3 linked regions of the Homo sapiens genome follow. The protein of the gene in region 2 purifies or fractionates together with the protein of the main gene of each other region. This does not show direct contact. Each region holds a gene or a part of one and is shown on either strand. Other genes may lie near its edges.

Region 1 (7,685 bases), on a different chromosome or scaffold from region 2:
ACCTAGGAGGTGGAGGTTGCAGTGAGCCAAGATCAGGCCACTGGCACTCCAGCCTGGGCAACAACAGCAAAACTCTGTCTCAAAAAAAAAAAAAAAGAAAAAAAGAAACCAAAGCTTACAGAAAAGCGGGAGGGTCAAGGTCACCAAGCTGGAGAGTGGCTAAATTGGAACCCAGAAGCCCAATTTCCTGAGAATTTATGCCAGCCCCTTCCACAGACCCTGAGTGAAAACCTGAAGCCCAGGGAGGTCACATGCAGGGCCCGTGCTCTCTGCAAAGCCCCCCTCAGTGCCAGCGCAACCCCAGTGTGGCCTGGGAATCAGGCCCAGATTCCAGCCCCAGTTCTGCCACTTGCAGCACTTCCCCAGCCCTATCAGGACCTGCCTGCAGTAACGGCTACCAGCGCAGCAGGCCCTGTGCCCGGATACCCGGACTCTCAACTGCATGTCATTATCACTTCAAAAAATCAGAAAGTGACTTGACGAGGGTCATATTGCTTCTAGGTGACAAGGCAAAGATTCATACTGAAGACCACCTGATTCAAAAGCTCAGCTCTCCTACTGTGCTAATATTTCTAGTAGCAGCAATTTCAGCTCAGACACTGCGGACCTCTGTGCTTCCACTGGTTTCATCTGCATGTCTGTGCCCTCTAGGCAAGCTGGTGCTCTTGACACCACCAGCCTCAGCCTGGGTCTCTGATGGGTCCCCAGGAGGCCATAACCAGGTATCAGAGATGGCCCTGCTTCAGACTGAGCCTGGGACAACAGCGGCCAACTCAGGCCTTGGCCTAGTACCTCCTAGTTCCACTCAGTTTCAACTGGGCAGGACCCTCCACCCCTCAGCCTTCCATGGCTTCCTGCTGCCTCACACCCCACATCAAAATCTAAATGCCTCTGCCTGGCTCTCAGTGACCACGGAGCACAGTCAAAGACCTGGATGCAAAACTAACTTCCCCTCCGACTAGCTGCGTGATGTTGGGCAAGACATTATCTACTCAAAGGCTCAGTTTCCTCTGCTATGAAATGGGGCTAAGTACTCAGCCCACCCTGCGTATTCCTTAGGCTGTTGCAAGGAGCCATGGAGACTGAATATACGACTTCCTGCTATTCTGCAAACTCCAGCATGCTATCTAAGCTTTGTCTACCATCACCACCACACTGATCCAGGGCCCGTGAGGGAGACAATACTTCGAGGTTAAAGAATAGTGCCAGGCAACAACAGGTTTAAGTTCCTAAAAATGCCAATCAGGACTGAGGGAAAGGGGACAACTAAAAACACCATGGGGCTGGTCTGGTCAGCTGGCAAAAGAGAAAAGCCACAGACAGGTGGCGAAAAAGAGGCCGACCCTGCTCATCATCCCCTCACAGGCCCTGTCTGGCTGCAGGTAGTCTATGTGAGGCAGGGCCAGGCAAAGAGCCTGAGGGCCACAGATTCAGGACCCAGCTCTGCCACGTCCTCAGTGGGTGACCTCAGTTAAGTCACCAGACCTCTACGAGTCATGGCTTCCTATTCGATAAAATGCAGCAAATGATTCCAACCTCATAGGATTGCTGGGGGGAAGAGATGGATAGAAGTTTTTTGCCAGTACCGGGCCAGGCCAAATAGTGGCCCTGTAAAGGCCAATGTTTACTGTTCAATAAACGTAGGGTAATTCTGTGGGCTCTTCTGCCACAATTCTCCAGCCTGGTAGAAGCCACAATCACACAGTTCCCCAGAGGAGGCAGGTAATTAAACCCCTGACTGTTCCCCACGCATCTCAGGGCCTCCACTGTTACATTCGTCCTGCTTGGAATGCCCTTCCCTCACTGGCCCTGCCTCCATCAGCTAGCCAAATTATCTTCATCCTTCAAGGCCTACCTCCACTCAAAAGCCCTCCCTGATGGCTTTAGCCCATCTCATTATTGCCCTCTTCCAAAAGAAATAGAATACCTGGTGATTATCAAGCACGTATGCTGTACCAAAACACTGTGCTAACCTCATCTCCAGCACCAACTCACTGAATCTTCACAATCATCTTATTAAGTACTATTAATTCTGCTTTACAAATAAAGACACTTAAGATTACTAACACAGCTAGAAAGCGGCAGAGTTCAGATTCAAACCTAGAGCCATCTCACACTGCAAAACCTAGAGCCTTAACCACTACATCATCCTACTTCCCACAGAACTCTGAACTGGCCTCCCTATCGTGCTTAATTCTACCCTGGCTTACTTGCTACGATTTCTCAGGCTCCCACCCTGAACGTGAATGATCCAACTCCACCTTTTTGCATTATGGCCTGAAAAAGGACAGGACACTAAGAGCTGGCTTCAGACCCCATTCCTTACTTGTGGGTAACTTTGAACATGAAAGTTCCCACCTGTAAAATGAGTACAATACCACCAATCTTTAAGGGTTGTTGTAATTAGAAGACTTTTATAAATCACAGGGTCTTTAACTTTCCTGTCTTAAACTTTTGGTTTTTGGCTGACTCTTTTACCACCTCCTTATTCGAGGCCTCTCCCACAGTTCGGCCCCCCTCCAACAAGCTTCCGTCCCCCGACAGATGGACTTGTTTCCTTGAGTTTCCTAAGTACTTTATGTAACACTCTTACTCCACTGGAAACACATCGTCTAATAAACTTTAAGTGTCTTTATCCACTCTGTCTTCCCCGAGCAGGCTAGCTTTTCCTCGAGGGCAGCGGCTCCATCCTGCTCCTCTCTGGGAAAGCTTCCAGAACGAGGCAAGCCCAAAGTTCTCAGTTGGGTTTGCCCCAGGCCAGAACCCGTGGGCGGCGGCTTGGCCTCCCTTCCCCAGGGCCAACGAGCTCACCTGGCCTTAGCGCACAGGGCCTTGACTTCGCTCTCCTTGATGAGCTCGCAGCGACGCAGCTGCTCGATCTGCCGGTCCAGGTCGCTGATCTCCGCCATGGCCCACCCCCGGCGCGGGTCAGAGTCGGGGCCGCCGCCCCCTCCGCACCGCACAGGGGTCTCCTGGGAAAGGCCAAGACGAGCCCGCGGATCAGTGTCCGTCCGGGGCTCGGAGCGGACAACTCGATTCTAGAGCCGGCCCGGCTCCCCCACCCCCGCCTCCCCTCACATCGGCCCCAGGACCCCCCGGCGTCCAACGGCCTGGCCGCACCCCCGCTAACTCCCGTCGAACCCCGCGGTCCCGCGCTAAGGACGGTGACTTAGAGGAGTCTCGCACTATTACCGCCGCTGCGACTCCGGTTCCGGCTCTCCGGCTCCCTGCCTCCCTCTTTCACTCCGCTTTCGACCGCCGCCGCCGCCGCCGCCGCCGCTCCTACTTCCGGCCCCGCCGCGGAAGCAAAGGAGGCCAGTTCCGCCGCGCGCCGGATGTGGCGTCATACACGCTCCTCTCCTTTCGCAGCGACCCCTGCACCACTTCTCCAGCCTGAGATCGGGAAGGAGGTGGAGGAACCCGGTGGCGGCCAGTGGCAGTTTTGTGGGCTCTGCCGCTGGGCGATGTGGAGGCTATTAGAAACCCTAGACCAGTCCCCTCCCATATCATTTCATAAAAATGTTTAAACAACTGTCTTTTCTTTTTTTGAGACGGAGTTTTGCTGTTGCCCAGGCCGGGGTGCAATGGCACGAACTCGGCTCACCGCAACTTCCGCCTCCCGGGTTCCAGCAATTCTCCTGCCTCAGCCTCCTGAGTAGCTGGGATTACAGGCATGCGCTACCACGCTGGGCTAATTTTGTATTTTTAATAGAGACGGGGTTTCTCCATGTTGGTCAGGCTGGTCTCTAACTCCCTACCTCAGGTGATCCGCGCCCCCACCCACCACCACCCTTCGGCCTCCCAAAGTGCTGGGATTACAGGCGTGAGCCACCGCGCCCGGCCACAACTTTCTTTTTTCTAAATTAGAGACAGGGTCTCGCTCTATCGCTCAGGCTGGAGTCGGTGGGGCTATCATAGGTCACTGTGACCTCGAACTCCTGGGCACAAGCTATCTTCCCGCCTCGGGCCTCCCAAAGTGCTGGGATTACAGGCGTGAGCCACCGCGCCCGGCCATCCCCCATTTCAGCTAGGGAAACAAGCCGAGCTGGGGCTAGGCTTTGTAACTTTATTACACTTTTTTTTTTTAACATTACACTTTTTTTTTAATGTTACACATTTTTGTTACTTGTTTTGTCAGCCTTCCCCACCACAGTCCTTGGAGGATCCAACTTTGTCTTTTTAAATATTGCAGCCCCAGTGGTTAGAATAAGGCCTGGCACGGTAGGCATATATAGATACTTGTTAATACTTGTTCAATGGATGAGGGAAGCCAAGTTCAGATCTCTTCCTGTGCCGTCAGAGAAATATTTGCCGTGGACAACTTCAGAAGTTAACAGATTGGAGTCCACTTTTCCCACGCCAAGCCTGTGCCTCAGTCAGCATGACTTCTCTGATTCCAAAATGGCACTCTTGACATTTCTTAGTTGCTTCCGTTTTTCTTTTTGAGACAGAGTCTCACTCTCTCGCTCTGTCGCCCAGGCTGCAGTCCAGTGGCGCCATCTCGGCTCACTGCAAGCTCCGCCTCCCGGGTTCACGCCATTCTCTTGCCTCTGCCTCCTGAATAGCTGGGACTACAGGCGCCCGCCACCAGGCCCGGCTAATTTTTTTGTATTTTTTAGTGGAGACGGGGTTTCACCGTGTTAGCCAGGATGGTCTCGATCTCCTGACCTCATGATCCACCTGCCTCAGCCTCCCAAAGTGCTGTACCACAGGCGTGTACCACCGTGCCCGGCCTCTTTTTTTTTTTTTTTTTTTTTTTTTGAGACGGAGTCTTGCTTTTTCACCCCGACTGGAGTGCAGTGGCACAATCTCGGCTCACTGCAACCTCCGCCTCCCAGGTTCAAGCGATTCTCCTGCCTCAGCCTCCCAAGTAGCTGGGATTACAGGCATGTGCCACGACGCCTGGCTAATTTTTGTATTTTCATTTATTTATTTTTTTAAGACAGAGCCTTCCTTGCTCTTGTCGCCCAGGCGGGAGTGCAGTGGAGCGATTTTGGCAAACCGCAACCTCCGCCTCCTGGGTTCAAGCAATTCTCCTGCCTCAGCCACCTGAGTAGCTGGGATTACAAGCACCCGTCACCACGCCCAGCTAATTTTTGCATTTTTAATAGAGACGGGGTTTCACCATTTTGGTCAGGCTGGTCTCGAACTCCTGACCTCAGGTGATCCACTCTCCTCGGCCTCGGAAAGTGCTGGGATTACCAGCTTGAGCCACCGTGCCTGGCTTCTTAGTTGCTTTCTATTAAGTTTTGTGCCTTTTTTAAGAGGAGGAAACTGGCTCAGAGGGGTTAAATAACTTGTTCATTGCTTGTATAACAGTGGATTGGGGATGTTACACTGAAATTTGAATCCGGGGCTAGGTGTGGTGGCTCAAGCATGTAATCCCAGCACTTTGGGAGGCCGAGGCGAATCACTTAAGCCCAGGAGTTCAAGACCAGGCTGGGCAACAGAGTGAGACCCAGTCTATAAACAAAAAGAATAAGAAACTTGGGCTGGGCGCGGTGGCTGACGCCTGTAATCCCAGCACTTTGGGAGGCTGAGGCGGGCGGATCACGAGATCAGGAGATCGAGACCATCCTGGCTAACATAGTGAAACCCCGTCTCTACTAAAAATACAAAAAAATAGCTGGGCGTGGTGGCGGGCGCCTGTAGTCCCAGCTACTTGGGAGGCTGAGGCAGGAGAATGGCGTGAACCCAGGAGGCAGAGCGTGCAGCGAGCCAAGATTGCGTCACTGGACTCCAGCCTGGGCAACAGAGCGAGACTCTGTCTCAAAAAAAAAAAAGAAAGAAATTTGAACCTGGCTGTGTGTGGTGGCTCACACCTGTAATCCCAGCACTTTGGGCAGCCGAGGCAGGTGGATCACCTGAGGTCAGGAATTCAAGATCAGCCTGACCAACATGGTGAAACCCTGTCTATCCTAAAAAATAAAAAATAATAATAATTAGGTTTGGTGATGCGCTTGTAGTCCCAGCTACCTGGGAGGCTGAGGCAGGAGAATCGCTTGAACCCAGGAGGCGGGGGTTGCAGTGAGCCGAAATTGTGACACCGCACTCCAGCTTGGACAACAGAGTGAAATGCTGTCTCAAAAAAAAAGAAATTTGAACTCAGAAAGTTGTGTCCTCAGGTGTAGTTTTTTTTTCTATCAATTACTCTTTCGGGAACTCAGATTATCATAAAATTAAGAGGTCCAGGCCAGGCATGGTGGCTCACGCCTGTAATCTTAGCACTTTGGGAGGCCAAGGCAGGCGGATTACCTGAGATTGGGGGTTCAAGACCAGCCTGGCCAACATGGTGAAACCCCGTCTCTACTAAAAATACAAAAAATTAGCCGGGTGCAGTAGCGTGCACCTGTAATCCCAGCTACTCTGGAGAGGCTGAGGCAGGATAATCGGTTTGAACCCGGGAGGCAGAGGTTGCAGTGAGCCCAGATCGTGCCACTGCCCTCCGGCCTGGGCTACAGAGCGAGACTTCGTCTCAAAATAAATAAATAAATAAAAGTCCAAATCCCCCAAACTGGTATATGACGTTCTCTGCTTCTCTAGTCTTTTTTATTTTTTTTTTTTTGAGACGGAGTCTCGCTCTGTTGCCCAGGATGGAGTGTGGTGGCACAATCTTGGCTCAGCGCAACCTCCACCTCCTAGATTCAAGCGACTCTTCTTGCCTCAGTCTCCCGAGTAGCTGGGACTACAGGCGCGCGCCACCATGCCCAGCTAATTTTTGTATTATTAGTGGAGACGGGGGTTTCACCACATTGGCTAGGCTGGTCTTGAACTCCTGACCTCGTGATCCGCCGGACTTAGCCTCCCAAAGTGCTAGGATTACAGTTGTGAGCCACCGTGCCCGGCTGAAACTATTGATCTTTAAACAATCTCTCCAGTCTCTGAGACTCTGCACATGTTCCCTTTTGGAATGCCCCCTTTGCCATCTTCTACCGACCTTCAATTTTTATTTGCTTTACTTCAGTGTTTGTTTCCCAGAGTTGAATGAGCTAGGCAGACAAATTAATCCAAAGTTTAGAGGGATAATAGTGATTGGTTTTGTTTTAGATGTAAGCAATAAAAGCAAAATAAGCAGAAAAGGGAAGGACCAAGTTTTATTTTTATTTTTTGGGACGGAGTCTGGCTCTGTTGCCTAGGCTGGAGTGCAGTGGCACAATCTCGGCTCACCATTACCTCTGCCTCCTGGGTTCAAGCAATTCTCCTGCCTCCGCCTCCCAAGTAGTTGAAACTACAGGTGTGCGCCACTATGCCCGGCTAATTTTTGTATTTTTAGTAGACACAAGGTTTCACTATGTTGTCCAGGCTGGTCTCAAACTCCTGACCTCATGATCCGCCCACCTTGGTCTCCCAAAATGATGGGATTATAGGCGTCAGCCACCGCACCCGGCCTAGGACCAAGTTTTTATACTCCTAGAAGGTTCTAGGTAACTCCGTTCTACCTGAATCACTGCAGAGATTCTCTAGGTCCAGAGAGCTGATGTAGTTACTGTACACCCCAGCCTGGGTCATTGGGGAAAGGCTCAAAGTAATGGCATGGCACGCTCATTCTAGCTTCATGGAAAGCAGCAGCTACAGAGACACAGTTCTTCACCTGGAGCCTGAGCTCTACAGCTTAACTTCTGTATCTGCATTACCAAGGGGGTATTGGAAACAATTCAAGGTTTTTATGGGATTCCACAGCCCAA
Region 2 (7,688 bases):
GCTGACCCATCTTCATACATCTCCAATCTATTAGACCATAAGCTGCTTATTCTTTTTTGTACCCCTCCACCCACCCTACAGCACTCAGCATGATGCCTCAGACGTATCTTTCAAAGAATGAGCCTAAGAGAGATCCAGCTGCCTTAGTGTGTGGGTGTGAGTGGGCATGGAGGAACCAGGCCTACCACCCTTGCTCCCTGGCTCCTGCAGAACAGGTGAAGCACACACATTTCAGCCCAGCTCAGTAGTCAAATGCTGTGTAGCACAGAGGTTAAAAGAACATGTTTGGACTCAGCCCTGTGTTTTGGGCCCAACTCTTACTGGCTGTGTAATCACAGGCAAGTTAACTAGCCTCTCTGAGCCTCAGTTTCCTCATCTATTAGATGATGACAATCATAATACCCTCTTCCCTCAGCACAGTGTTAAGGCACATGAAAACCGTAGTGCTGGTCAATGTTATTACTATTATTATGAACAAGAAAAAAATCGGAGGGGGCAGGGGCACCCTACTCAGGAAAATAAAAGAGGTAAGTCCCAGAGGAGAACATGAAGGAAGAGGAGAGATGCGAATCCCTCCAAGAGATTATCTTAGCACCTATCCACTAAGCACGTACTTACCGTGTGAAAAGGAGTTGTCAAACCAAAATGAAACTTAGTTATTATCTCAAAGGGGAAGAAAAGTCTTGTCCACAATTAATTCCCATCCAAGGCCAAACACAAAAGGACCATAAGTGGCCTACTAAGTGTTCTGCAAATCCAGAAAAGAAAGGAGAGTTCACTCCTGACTGAGGGCTCAGAAAGGCTTTAGAGAGGAAGCTGTGAAAGATGGCCAGGAGAGAGGGGACAGGTCATAGATGAGCAATAAAGATCCTCCACCCACAGCCATCCAGACAAACCTCAGTCACACTGGCAACCCCCCTGCCCCTTAGAGCCTGCCAACCATTGAAGAAGGCCAAATGCAACTGAAAATCAAGAGCAGAAAAACCTTATAGGGAGGTGAGAGTTATGCCTGGCTCCATGCACCCCGTTACTTCCAACACCCTTTCCCAACCAAACGTTTACACCCATGGTCCTAGCAAATCTCACTGGCAATTTGTCTTCTTCACAATCTAGTAGGCTATTGCTTTCTGTGGATGGGACAGTATCTAGTCCAACAGACTAAAAATTACAAATGGGTGGGGACCTCACCAGCTTTCCCCGAATTCCATTTCCCTTAGCCCCTGTTGTGGCTGATTTCTGTGTGCATTGTCTACGACTGAGCTACCCAAACCACCTCCGCATGCCCACTCCCCAAGGACAGGGCCTGGGTGGGGCACAAAACCCTGTCCAGCTCACTACTCCCAGGAGGCTCACTATCTAGTACACCATCACCAACCCTGTACTTAGAACCTCAGGCCCTGAAAGGTTAAGGGGACAACTCAGAATCAGAGCTGCCTGGCAAATACAGAACAGCCCCAGGAGAAAAAGTTTGATTGAAAAGGTCAGAGATGGCAGCCCAGTAACCCAGCCAATCAGAGGGCAAATGAAAGCAATATACCTCTGGGGTCATCGAGCAGGTGGCCAGAACACCAGGCCAGAGCCAACCCCCACCAAAAAGGGCCAGCCCCAGGAGAGGAGAAGCTGGGGGAGGCTGGAACTGGTATCCTAGCATCCTATGTGTGAGTCTGTACCTCAAAGGAACCACACCTCTGAGTCAGACCTCAGCAACAGCAGGAAACAGAGGGTAGAAAAAGGCACGGATGAGGAGCAGGGGAAGGCAGCACCGAGGTAGATGAGGAAGGTGAAAGAAGGCAACATTAAGAACTGGCCTGTGGGCCAGGCACGGTGGCTCACACCTGTAATCCCAGCACTTTGGGAGGCCGAGGGGGTCAGATCACCTGAGGTCAGGAGTTCAAGACCAGCCTGATCAACATGGAGAAACCCCGTCTCTACTAAAAATACAAAATTAGCCGGATGTGGTGGCGCATGCCTGTAATTCCAGCTACTTGGGAGGCTGAGGCAGGAGAATCGCTTGAAGCTAGAAGGCAGAGGTTGTGGTGAGCCGAGATCGCGCCATTGCACTCCAGCCTGGGCAACAAGAGCAAAATTCCATCTCAAAAAAAAAAAAAAAAAAAGAAATGGCCTGTGTCAGGACATCATGATAAAGACATGGGTGTTCAGGGGTGGCTGGCCTGCAGGCTAAGAAGGAACAATAATCTGACAGTGAGGACAAATTCCCAATTTGAAGATGGTGTAGCTTAGGAAAGGCAGAAATCCAGCACTGGTGCGAAAAGAAAAAAAAAAAGGAAAAATGCAAAGGTTATCCTAGGATTAAGAATAAGGGTGAGGAGCCTACTCAGATTAGGAAAGGTGACTGGTCTAGGATGCACTTGGGTGACAGTTAGGAGGGCTTTGATACAAAAGAGGCCTTTAAGTCAGGAGACCTGATATTGCAGCTGGGCCTCCAGCAGGCTGTGTGACCTTGGACAAGTCCCTTGCCCTGTCGGGGCCTCAGTCTCCTCATCTGTACCATTAGGGATTGCACTGCATGCGCTCAGAGGTCCCTTCCAGCACCAACGTTGTGAGGTTCCATCAACAGAAGGGCTCAGTCCTGCTTACAAGTTTGTGTGTGAAGGAAGAACTAGAGGGAGGGGCCTAGGCCAGATTTGGGTGGAGGAGAGAGAAAGCAGCGCTGTTCTAGGTCAGGGGCTTGGCATGGAAAGAGAAGGGGCCGTAGGGGACTGCGGGGCGGCTGTCCCAGGCGGGTAGGAAGAGGAGACAAGGGGCTGCTCAGGGCGGGGCGAGGGGGCAATTCTGGAGGAAGGTGCAGTTTCAGATGAGGGGCTGCCCAAACCGAAGGGGGATCGGGGCCAGGGGTGATGGGGGGGACAGAAAAAGCAGGACAGTGACCTGGGAATGGGGCAGATCTGGAAGAAGGAGGTTACCCTGGGCCGGGGGTAAGAGAAGGGAAGAAGGGAGGGAGGTGTATGTGGGGGGAGTCTCTCCGGGGCAAGGTGGGGGAGCTGTCCTAGCTGCGGCACAAGCTGGGGGTGCTGCCAGCCGCGGGGGCGGAGGGCTGGCCCCAGGAGTCCTGCGGGGGCTGGACGGGAGGGTCAGTCTGGGGCTGTCCCGGGCCTGGCTCCGGCCCCTCCCAGAGCTCCGCGCAGGCTCCAAGGCGGCGGTGGGGGAAAAAGGGCCACGCTCACCTTCTCCTTTTTCAGTTTATAGGGCATCTCGGCCCGTCCGGACCCGGCCCGTCTCCTGCGGCCCCGCTCCGGCTCCGGCTTTGCTCGGCCGCACTCGGCCCGCTCGGCGTCTCTTCGCCACCGCCTGCGCGCTGCGCCCGGGTCGAGCGGTGCCTGCGCCTCCAATTGGCCCGAACTCCTACAAAACTGCCTGACAACCAGGCGCCGCCTCCTCGGATTGGTCATTGGAGCCAAGCTGCTTCCTTTTTTTCTTATTGGAAAGAAATAGTACAAACCGCCAGGGTTCGGCTTCCAGAATTGGCTGAAGTGGGTGGTCCCGCCCTAAAGTGGGTCGAGCTTAGAGAAGGAGGCGGGGATAAGGGGAAACCCAAGCTTGGCTAGGAGGGCTGCACTCCAGCGTCTGCTGTGCGTCGGCCTCGGCCATTCTTCGCGGCGCTTGGAGCCCTGCTCTTTCCTTCTAAAGGCTCTCACACTTTGCCCGCTCTGCTACCCTGTCCAGTCGGAATTGGAGGAAGGAAGCCCTAATACGGAGGGCACCTTTCTTCACTGGGGTAAAGTAGCCCTAATTGCAGATGCAAAATTGATGGAGGGAGCTCCCAAGGACCTTCCAAGACACCCGCCTCCCTAGACAGGGGTTGCAGAGGAGCAAAGGGGAAGCCTGGCAGGGCTAGGACCTGGGCGAAATGAGTGGAGAATCCCTGGCTTGGTGCAACTTTAGGAAGAGGGTCCCCGTTGCTACTGCAAGTGTACTGGGATTGGGGAACCAGCTAGATTTGAGCAGTTGGGAACGCAGTGGAAAAGCAACTTCATTGTTGACTGTCTCAGGAAATCCATCCCTTACTTGCCACCCTGCTCAAGTCCGTGTTCTAATGGGTAAGACTCAGTTTATGCCCACAAAGAGTTCGCAGTCTGGTGAATCACAGATGTGTATAAACAAAGGATTAAGAGAGAATGTAAACCAGGCAGGCACGGTGTCTCACGCCTGTAATCCCAACACTTTGGGAGGCTGAGGCAGGAGGATCACCTGAGGTCAGAGGTTCGAGACCAGCCTGGCCAACATGGCGAAACCCCGTCTCTATTAAAAATACAAAAATTAGCTGGGTGTGGTGGTGCACGCCTGTAATCCCAGCTACTCGGGAGGCTGAGGCAGGAGAATCACTTGAACCCGGGAGACGGAGGTTGCAGTGAGCCGAGATCACACCACTGCACTCCAGCCTGGGCGACAGAGCAAGACTCTGTCTCAAAACAGCAACAATGACGACAAAAAGAATAAACCTGTGGCCAGGCTCGGTGGCTCACGCCTGTAGTCCCAACACTTTGGGAGACCAAAGTGGGCAGATCACGAGGTCAGGAGTTTGAGACCAGCCTGACCATAGTGGTGAAACCCCATTTCTACTAAAAATACAAAAATTAGACAGGGTGCGGTGGCTCACGCCTGTAATCCCAGCACTTTGGGAGGCCGAGGTGGGCGGATCACGAGTCAAGAGATCGAGGCCATCCCGGCCAACATGGTGAAACCATGCCTCTATGAAAAATACAAAAATTAGCGGGGCGTGGTGGCGCGCGCCTGTAGTCCCAGCTACTCGGGAGACTGAAGCAGGAGAATCACTTGAACCCGGTAGGAGGCTGAGGCAGGAGAATTACTTGACCCCGGTAGGTGGAGGTTGCAGTGAGCCGAGATCATGCCACTGCGCTCCAGCCTGGGCGACAGAGCAAGACTCCGTCTACAAAAAAAAAAGAAGAAACCTGTGATGCAAAGGCATGAGAATGATACAATGGAGGCCGGGCGCGGTGGCTCACGCCCGTAATCCCAGCACTTTAGGAGGCCGAGGCGGGCGGATCACGAGGTCAGGAGATCGAGACCATCCTGGATAACACGATGAAACCCCGTCTCTACTAAAATAATACAAAAAAATAGCCGGGCGTGGTGGCAGGCGCCTGTAGTCCCAGCTACCCGGGAGGCTGAGGCAGGAGAATGGCGTGAACCCGGGAGGCAGAGGTTGCAGTGAGCCTAGATCATGCCACTGCACTCCAGCCTGGGCGACAGAGCAAGACTCCGTCTCAAAAAAAAAAAAAAATACTACACATTGGGTACAGTATACACTGCTTGGGTGATGGCTGCATCAAAATCTCATAAATCACCACTAAAGAACTTATTCATGTACAAAAAATAAATTTTTAAAATTCTATATAAAATAAAATATTTAGTCTTAAAAAAAAAAAAGGTCAGGCGCAGTGGCTCACGCCTGTAATCCCAGCACTTTGGGAGACTGAGGAGGGCGGATCACCTGAGGTCAGGAGTTCAGGACCAGCCTGGCCAACATGGCAAAACCCCGTCTCTACAAAAATACAAAAATTAGCCAGGCATGACGGTGGGTGCCTGTAATCCCAGCTACTCAGGAGGCTGAGGCAGGATAATCCATTGAACCCGGGAGGTGGAGTTTGCAGTGAGCCGAGATCGCACCATTGCATTCCAGCCTGGGCGACAGGGCAAGACTCCATCTGAAAAAAAAAAAAAAAAACACAAAACCTGTGTCCCTTACCCAGGTACCCAGGAGAGCAATGTTACAAGACAGTGGCCGTGGGGATGGAGAAGAGAGGATGGAGCATGAAAATGTGTAGAATCAACAGGATATGGTGATTCATTGTATTGTGGGGGGGACGGTAACGGAAAGGGAAGAGTTGAGGATGATTTCTGGAAGTGATCAGAGTTGTAGGAGGACAACTGGTGTCATAATGGCAAAGGAAATAAAAGACAATTGGTCAGTAGTGTCAGAGAAAGAACAGCATCATCTTGATTCTGCAATTAGAAGATTATGGGTGATTTTTTCAGAGAGTGGAAGACCGTTTTTAGTGAGTGGAAGAGTGAGCATCAAGAGGTGAGGAAGTGAAGATGGCAAATGTAGGGTCCTGGCGATCTTACAGAAGTAGTATTTGGCTTTCGGTGACTAATGACGATTTCAGGGTAACACAAAGTGGACTACATGCCCGCTGTTACCTGCTGGGAGAAAAGCTTGGGAGAAAAGGACATTTATTTGTGGGTGGGTATTTGTGTCTGTATGAGTGCTGATCCAGGCAAGATAACTGATGTTTTTACCCATCTCCAAGGCCTCAAGGAGCACTATAGTCCTGAGGCCTAGAGCTTGCCTGCTACTGAGGAAAGCAGGCATATCCTCTTTAGGCCCATGTACCATCTATCTAGCCCTTGGTTCCTCTGGGACATAGGGGACCAAGAAACATATAGTAGCACTACCAAATGGGAACTTTCATCCATGTGAATCTAGGTACCTAGAACATTCTTTATTTAGTTTTTTTTTCTTTTAATTTTATATATTTTAAGAGACAAGGTCTTGCTCTGTCACCCACTTGGAGTGCAGTGGCACAATCATAGCCTCAAATTCCTGGGTTCAAGTGATCCTTCTGCCTCAGCCTCCCCATAGCTGGGATTATAGACACAAGCCATGGTTCCTGGTTAGTACATTCTTGCATGCTATTTTATTTATTTTTTTCTATTATTTATTTTTTTGAGACGGAATCTCACTCTGTCACCCAGGCTGGAGTGCAGTGGCGCAGTCTCGGCTCACTGCAAGCTCTGTCTCCCGGCTTCACGCCATTCTCCTGCCTCAGCCTCCCGAGTAGCTGGGACTACAGGCACACACCACCATACCCAGCTAATTTTTGTATTTTTAGTAGAGACGGGGTTTCACCATGTTGGCCAGGCTGGTCTCAAACTCCTGGCCTCAAGCAGTCCACCCACTTGGCCTCCCAAAGTGCTGGGATTACAGCCATGAGCCACTGCGCCCAGCCCCTTATAATATGCAAATCTAATAGTTTTCATATATTTGTCTTTCAAATTTTCAGGAATGTATAATGTACAAAATAGAAGACTGCCTCAAGAAGAAAGGAGAGATGGAGAAAGCTGAGCAGTAGCTGAAAGAGAATGTAAGGTCTAGAAAATGGAGATTGGCACCATCCAATTCATTTATTGTAAGTGAAAATAATTGTTAATAATTGGAAATGCAGTGGGACATGATGGCTTATGCCTGTAGTCCCAGCACTTTGGGAGGCTGAGGCCTGAGGATCTCTTCAGACCAGGAGTTTGAGACCAGCCTAGGCAACACAGAGAAACTCTGTCTCTACAAAAAATAAAAAATTAGTCCAGGCGCAGTGGCTCATGCCTGTAATCCCAGCACTTTGGGAGGCGTAAGCAGGTGGCTCACTTGAAGCCAGGAGTTCGAGACCAGCCTGACCAACAGGGTGAAACCCCGTCTCTACTGAAAATACAACATTAGCTGGGTGTGGTGGCACACACCTGTAATCTCAGCTACTTGGGAGGCTGGGGCAGGAGATTCTTTGAACCTGGGAAGCGGAGATTGCAGTGAGCTGAGATCGTGCCATTGCACTCTGGCCTGGGCAACAAGACCGAAACTCCGTCTCAAAAAAAAAATTGGCTGGGTATGGTGGCGTGTGCCTGTGGTCCCGGCTACAGTTACTCGGGAGGCT
Region 3 (7,670 bases), on a different chromosome or scaffold from region 2:
TGTTCAAGCTGCCAACTCATATATACTAGAAGACAAACCACTATGAGTAAGAGTCAGTGGAAACAAGAAAAACGTCTTCCGTCACTTAAAAATTGTCAGATACACAACATAGAATATCTGAGTATAAAAATGTTTAAAGATATAGAGGAATCCACTTTTGTAGTGTTGTAGTAAGAAATTTGAACCAACCCTTTTACTGAGGTCAGCAAAGGACAAAATGTTCAACATAGCATCTGCTCTGATTCCTTTGCCTTTCAATAATTCCATCTCTTGTTTGATAAATTTGAAAAGGTTTTTTAGAACTACGTTTTTGGGCAGAAGGGTGAGAATAGAGGATGAGAACTATGATCTTTTTATTGATCATGATTTGTTGTTTTTAAATGCAAAGAAAGCATTTCCAATTTGATTTTTTCTATATTAATTTTAATTTTTGTAATCATTATCAATAGATATTCTTATGCAGAATTCCCTGTGACAATTTTGATAATATCATATTCACATTCTAAGTATCAGAAGGTATTTGAACTGGAAATGAAAGTATTTCTTTAATCATTTGAGGATTACAGTGATATAGGAGAATCATTTTTAGACCCATACAATGTATAATTGTAGCATATAATTATGTGGATACATTACAAGATATAAATGATTCATATTTCATATTTTAAATGGTATATAATACATTAGGAAAAATATCAATGTTTATATATTTTAAAAGAGCCTAGTCAATTAAGTAGGAAGAAAATCTCACATGTACTTTTAAGGCAAATAATCTGTGGAAGATTTCTTTTTAATTATTTAACCAAAAGGAGAGAGGTAAACAGAATAACAATAAGAAAACCTCTAGGTCAAAAAAGAAAATTAGATCTGGCCTATAAACCTAAGATTAAATGCAGTTTGGCATGACAAGTAATTTAGCAAGGATTGGAGGTTGATGGTTATGTTCTGAAGGAGAACACACACACACAGACACACACACAAACACACACGTCTGACAGAAGCAGAAAGCAAAAAAGAAATAAGTTTAAGAATTATTGTTCTTCCAGACTGGCCCACATGTTGAAACCCTGTCTTTACTAAAAATACAAAAATTAGCCGGGTGGTAGTGGCATGCACCTGTAATCCCAGCTACTTGGGAGGCTGAGGCAGGAGAATCGCTTGAGCCTGGGAGGTGGAGGTTGCAGTGAGCCAAGATCGTACCACTGTGCTCCAGTCTGGGTGGCAGAGTGAGACCCTATCTCAAAAAAAAAAAAAAAAAAGAATTATTGTTCTTATTTATAATTAAGAGACCGTCACAACCAAAATAGCAAAAACTGATATTGTAAGTCATCAAGCCCCTTGGCCAATCTACCATTCTTGGGCTTTCCATGTTCCCATCCACACTGCAGGGACCATAGAACATAAAGCATGGAGTAGAACTCATATGTGAGTGTTAATCTGTACCCCACCAGTACTATCTGTGTGACTTGAACATGTATTTAAACCTCTACCTGTCTTTCTTTTCATCTGTAATATGGAAAGTATAATAACACCAGCCTCATGAGGTTACTGGAGCATTAAATGAGAAGCTACATGTAAAAACATTAGTATATAGGAACTACTCAAAGAAAGTATTCTTCTTTGTTCTACATCACTACTTGACTAAACTTCTTAGAAGTACTATTTTCACAAACACCTACTCACCTCTAAGAATATTCTCTCACATTCATTTCAAACACATTTGCTTCTATTTCAAGGACCTCCCTCCCTAACTACCATCCACAGTTCCCACTTGCCCTCAGGGTATATTTTGTTTTCAGTCCATCTTCTCTAGGAACCCTGAACATATTCTCATTCTCACTTTTGTTCCGAGCTTTCCAAGCTTAGCCGAAAATCAGCTTCCTTTTTTATGTATGTATTGAGACAGGATCTCACTTGTTGCCCAGGCTGGAGTTACGGTGGTGCAATCTTGGCTCACTGCAACTTCCGCCTCCTGGGCTCAAATGATCCTCCCACCTCAGCCTCCTGAGTAGCTGGGACTACAGGCATGCGCCACCATGCCCGGCTAATTTTCCGTAGAGACAGGGTTTCACCATATTGCCCAGGCTGGTCTTGAACTCCTGAGCTCAAGTGATCCTCCCACCTCAGCCTCCTAAGGGCTAGGATTACAGGTGTGAGCCACTGCACCTGGCCCAGCCTCCTTTAAAGCCTTATAGACTAACCTCCTCAGAGAATGTAATATCTATTGCAATGATATCTCACCAGTATTGTTTCATCACCTTTTGTGTTTTGTTCAACTGGTTTGCTGCTATTTACAAGCTGTTGAGAGCAGGAGCTCTTCCAGCCTTATTTCCAACAATATAATCTATTTCTGTTGCTAGGAGAATTTATAGCTTTCCAAACAGACAATGAATGGTCTTTCACTCATTTGTCTACTGGCACACGCACAAAAAAATTCCTTAGACCTTCTTTCCTCTTCTCCAGGCAACTTCAAGCTTTTGCCTTGAGAGAAGGTTGAAAATTCAGTTCAATTACCGCTTTTCTAAAGCTTTCTGTAATTGTTCCCTAGGAGGGGTAAGGCAACTAACATATCGCTCCCATACCGTACTATTGGGCAGGCACTTTTAAAACTTAATCTTCACAAAGGTAGGCCTTTTATTGATTTTAACAGATGAAGAATTTGAGGCTTACGGAGGTTTGATGATTGCCCAAGGACATAGCTAGGGGGTTAGCAAACACAAGAACCCTTGCTTTCTGATACAGGATGTTACCTTCCACTTGGGTTCAGCCGCAGTAGTATGTACCTTTAATAGACACAGTATGATCATTTAGCACATGCTATTCAAGGTATCTGGCAGCTAGCAGCTGCTCATGTTACCTAACTGAATTTAGGTCCTCCCTCAAGTACGGCAAAGCCAAACACTGACATTGGGGTTTGTAGTGAAAGTGAGGCATTTATTGCATTGCACCAAGCAAGAAGAATCAGGCAGCTCATGCTTAAGACCCCAACTCCCTGATGGTTTACAGGTAAGGGGTTTTTTGTGTGCTTTTTTTTTTTTTTTTGAAACAGAGTTTCACTCTTGTCACCCATGCTGGAGTGCAATGGCGAGATTTCGGCTCACTGCAACCTCCACCTCCCGATTTCAAGTGATTCATCTGCCTCAGCCTCCCAAGTAGCCGGGATTACAGGCGCCCACCACCATGCCCAGCTAGTTTTTGTATTTTTAGTAGAGAAGGGGTTTCACCATGTTGGCAGGCTGGTCTCCAACTCCTGGCCTCGGCCTCCCAAAGTGCTGGGATTACAGGCATGAGCCACTGCGCCCAGCCCAGGTAAGGATTTTTAAAGGCAGGGAGGCAGAGGTTACAGGCAAAGTCATAAATCAATACATGGAGGCTATACGTGGGTTTGATCTAAAAAGCCAGGATATCTGAAGCAGGGACCCACAGGTCATAGATGGATTCAAAGATTTTCTGATTTGCAATTGGTTAAGGAGGCAAAGCTTTGTGAATTCTTCCAGGCTCCTCAGGAAGAAATTTAGAACAAAGATAGGTAGTTTGAGATCTCCATGCCAGTGGACACCATTTTCCATTTGGTGAGGTCCAGGTTTCTGAAAAACAACTCAGGGACATATGTCGTCTTTAGTTTCTATAGGGAAGCAAACATTTTGTGAATCTAACGTCCTTGGCTACTGTCTTAAGCTATTATTACCTTCTTGCTTATCAGGTTGCTCATTGACTTATTGAGGAAGTTAGGTGCCTGGAATGTCCCTTCAGGGAACTCAAGATTTTCCTTTATTTCCATGCTTGGGGAGGGGGGTGCCTAGATGGCCCCTAAGAGGGGTCCCTGTTCTGTCTCTCAATAAATATTTGTTGAATGAACAAATCATTACAACTCAGTACACATTGCAGAAAATATAGCCAAGAGCTCTGGAGCTGGAAGGGCCACAGATTATCCTACAGAACAATCATTTCACTTTTCTAATGTCGAAAGGGAGGATTCGAGATGTTAGGGGCTACAGGTGAGGCTGGAAATAATTAATTTACTCCATCAATATTGAATGCCTGCTATTGAGTGCTAGACTCTGGGGAGACAATGTTAAGGGAAGCCCAAGTTTTCCAACTCCCTGTCCAGAGCGCTGCAAAGTACTGCAGGAAGCTAAAGTGAGGACAAAGTTCCCAGAGATCAGGATATTTAAAGGGAGAACCAGCAGAGCTTGGTCTGGGGCAGGGTGGGGAAAAGAGGGACCCTGGCCTCCTCGGACCGTTTCTCCGCCAAGCCACGCGAGGGCGCTGTTCTGCTCCTAGGGCGCCGTGTCCCGGCGGCGCCGCCTGCTCGCCTTTTCCCGGCGGAAATGCCCGAGCGATGACGGAAACCCGGAGGGAGGGGAGAGAAAGAGCGAGAGAAGGGGAAAGACAAGTCGGGAGAGGCCGGTAGGCGTGAGGCGGGCCTGAAGCGGCAGCGGGCGGCCTTCGTCCGGCGAGAGCTAGGCCGAGGACCCGCGCCGCGCTCCCCGGCACCTCACCGCGTCCTTCACCGACTCCCGCGGCGCGCGGCCGGGCGGGGAAGGGCGGGCGGGGGTCTCCTCCAGGCTGCGCGCTCGGAGCCGCCTGCTGGGCTTGGGCGGGGCGCGGGGCCCGCGGCCGCCCTACCCGGCTCAGTCCTCCCCCTGTGGGACCTGGCGACGGCGGCGGAGGGAGAGGGGAGCGGCGCCCGGGCCGGGGCCGGGGGCGGGTGGGGAGGGGGGAGGGCGGCGGCCGGGCTGGGGCTCGGGATCCGCATCGGGATCGGGCCGCCATGGACGACAAGGCGTTCACCAAGGAGCTGGACCAGTGGGTCGAGCAGCTGAACGAGTGTAAGCAGCTGAACGAGAACCAAGTGCGGACGCTGTGCGAGAAGGTGAGGGCGCCGCGGGGGCGAGTGCGGGAGCGCGGGGCTGGGACGGGCCGCCGCTTTCCTGCCCGCCCCGGTCCCGTCCGCCCCTGGCCCGGCGCGGCCCACCGGGGGCCTGCGGGGCTGTGGGTCCGGCTCCGGCGTCCACCTAGGCGGCCGGCCCATCGGTTCAGGGCCCGGGGCGTTGGGCTGCCCTCGCCTGCCCCTTCCACCTCCGCCTCACGCCCCCGGCCGGCTGCCCAGATCCCGGGCGTGGGGGGCTCGGGTGCGGACGGGCGGGGAAACGTAGCCCCCTGAGCCAAGCAGGAGGTTGGTCGGGGTCGCCTGCGCTCCACTGGGGAGTTCCTGCCACTCTAGCATTTCCCGAGTGGACTAGCGAGAGCGACGTCCGAAAAGGACCATTTTCAGACCAGTTTCTGAAAATGCAACTAAAATTAACCAGAATGTCGTGCGTATTAATGAACTTGTTAATAAATGCAGAATTTTTGTCAGGTGAACGGGGCACCTCAGAAATCACTAACTCAAGCCGGGCGTGGTGGCTCACGCCTGTGGCCACAGCTACTCGGGAGGCTGAAGCGGGAGGATTGCTTGAGCCCAGGAGTTAGAGACCAGCCTGGGCAACATAGTGAGGCCCCGTCTCCACACACAAAAAATTTTTTTTAATTAGCAGGGTGTGACGGCGGGTGCCTGTAATCCCAGCTATTCGGGAGGCTGAGGCGGGAGGATCGCTTGAGCCCAGGAGGTGGAGGCTGGTTGCAGTGAGTCGAGATCGCGCCACTGCACTCCAGCCTGGGCGACAGCAAAAAAAAAAAAAAAAAAATCGCTGATTCTTGAATGTGCCAAGCGTTTGTTTGCGGAGAGGTAGGCGTGATGGCCAACTGTGATTTTTAAAATAGAGGTTGACTTTGGTGGAAACAGATGGTGACTGGTCTTTGTGTTGAGTGGCTCTTGGAAGTAAAGTGTTGATTTTCAGAAACGAGAGCCGATCTTAAGTTTGGGAACAGTGTTTGCTGGAAATGATAAGTGGGATGTGTGTTTTCATGCACGATAGCACTTTGCAGAAAGTTATTTTTGTTTTTAATATATATAAAGTTTTTTTCCAAAGAATAATAAAACATGCGGGTGATCAGTTCGTTCTTGTACATCGTGAGTGTGTGATCTTCACTTTGTAAATTCTGTATCCATTGTTTTCTTAACCCCTGAAATTATTTCGATCTCTCCATCTTTGAAGTCTAGAGTTGTCCACATTCATCCTTTACAAGGTGGACTAAATAATTTTCATGTATTTTTAGGTTAAAAATTCTCACTTGAAGTGCATGAAGAAGTAACGATGTTATTTTAAAACGTAATCTATAAAATTTTCTTAACCGTAATGTTTAGAAGTCATGATGTGGCAGAAGTGCACTGGAGAAGGAAAGATTTTGTTAGTCTGATTTTAGGGTACTCTTAAGATCATGAAATTTACTTAGAAAAGGAGCACTAATAGATGGTGTTAAGTTACAATATTTTTAACGGGTGTAATGTTGGTCGGGGCCTTTGTGTATTAAGTAACTATTTGTTAACACAGGAGGATTTATTTTTGTAAATAGAAGTGCCAAGCAAGTGGTATTTTTCTCTTTCTGAAACAAACTGCTTACTTGTGGCTTCAGTTGACATTCATTTTTATTGTGATAACCTGTAATTTCATGAGTCTTAAAATTTATGCCTTAAACATCTCTCTCCAGCTCTAATGCGAAGTGAAATGTACAGGTTTGAAATGATCTGAGTCAGTTAACCTGACTATGAGCATCAGAATACAGACTTGAAGTTATGGGTAAAGTGTTAGTTGAATCAGTTTTTCCCATTGACTTCCTTTTTTTGTTTTATTTTTGTTTTGAGACAGAGGCTCAGTCTGTCGCCCAGACTGGAGCGCAGTGGTGCCGTCTCTGTTCACTGCAACCTCCACCTCCGGGGTTCGAGGGATCCTCCTGCCTCAGCCTCCCGAGTAACTGGGATTACAGGTGCATGCAGCCATGCACTGCTAATTTTTGTATTTCTAGTAGAGATGGGGTTTTGCCATGCTGGCCAGGCTGGTCTAGAACTCCTGGCCTGAAGTGATCCCTCAGCCTTCCAAAGTGCTGGGATTACAGGCGCGAGCCTCGTGCACAGCCCCTATTGACTTTCTAATAATTTTAAGATGAACTTCTAGAGAAGAATATTGTACCACTGCTGTACTTTGAAATAATCACACCGGAGTGTCAACGATCACTTGAGGAAGCTTTCTGTATTTGTCAAAAGAGATTATTTTTACTTCGGCTCCTAAATAAATCAGACTAACAGTTCCTAGGACTTCACAGGTATATTTAAGATTATCTCTTGTATCTTACTAGCCTTTTTTGGGGGCGGGGGGGGGACGCAGTCTTGGTGTGTCAGTCAGGCTGGAGTGCAGTGGGGCAATCACCGCTCACTGCAACCTCAACTTCTGGGGCATAAGGGACCCTCCCACTTCAGCCTCTCAAGTAGCTGGGACCACAGGCATGTGTCACCACACCGGGATAATTTTTTTATTTTTTTTATGGGGTCTCACCGTGTTGCCCAGGCTGGTCTCGAACTCTCGGGCTCAAGTGATCCTCCCGCCTTGGCCTCCCAAAGTGCAGGGATTGCGGGAGTGAGCCACCACTCCTAGCCCATTTTTTTTTCTTTGAATATTTGTCCTTACCCACAAAGCATGAATTTGTTAGTGAAATTCATTCATCTTTGTTCTCTACCCCCATTGATGGAGTTGCCAATGGGTTGGAAAAGTGTGATAATACTCATTTCT

Evidence for each region.
Region 1: the proteins of PPP2R5D (region 2) and PPP4C purify together in Homo sapiens (affinity purification with mass spectrometry; 7 studies listed by BioGRID and IntAct, with this or other methods). This does not show direct contact.
Region 3: the proteins of PPP2R5D (region 2) and PPP2CB purify together in Homo sapiens (affinity purification with mass spectrometry; 10 studies listed by BioGRID and IntAct, with this or other methods). This does not show direct contact.

Annotation. Positions count from the first base shown.
Region 1 is NC_000016.10:30,071,602-30,079,286, reverse strand, and holds the start of PPP4C (serine/threonine-protein phosphatase 4 catalytic subunit), read right to left. Parts: upstream 3,294-7,685; 5' UTR 3,193-3,293; exon of another isoform or gene 3,187-3,192; intron 2,973-3,186; 5' UTR 2,910-2,972; coding exon 2,812-2,909; intron 1-2,811. UniProt on the Homo sapiens protein: Protein phosphatase that is involved in many processes such as microtubule organization at centrosomes, maturation of spliceosomal snRNPs, apoptosis, DNA repair, tumor necrosis factor (TNF)-alpha signaling, activation of c-Jun N-terminal kinase MAPK8, regulation of histone acetylation, DNA damage checkpoint signaling, NF-kappa-B activation and cell migration.
Region 2 is NC_000006.12:42,980,202-42,987,889, reverse strand, and holds the start of PPP2R5D (serine/threonine-protein phosphatase 2A 56 kDa regulatory subunit delta isoform), read right to left. Parts: upstream 3,321-7,688; 5' UTR 3,213-3,320; coding exon 3,186-3,212; intron 1-3,185. UniProt on the Homo sapiens protein: The B regulatory subunit might modulate substrate selectivity and catalytic activity, and might also direct the localization of the catalytic enzyme to a particular subcellular compartment.
Region 3 is NC_000008.11:30,809,526-30,817,195, reverse strand, and holds the start of PPP2CB (serine/threonine-protein phosphatase 2A catalytic subunit beta isoform), read left to right. Parts: upstream 1-4,377; 5' UTR 4,378-4,774; coding exon 4,775-4,876; intron 4,877-7,670.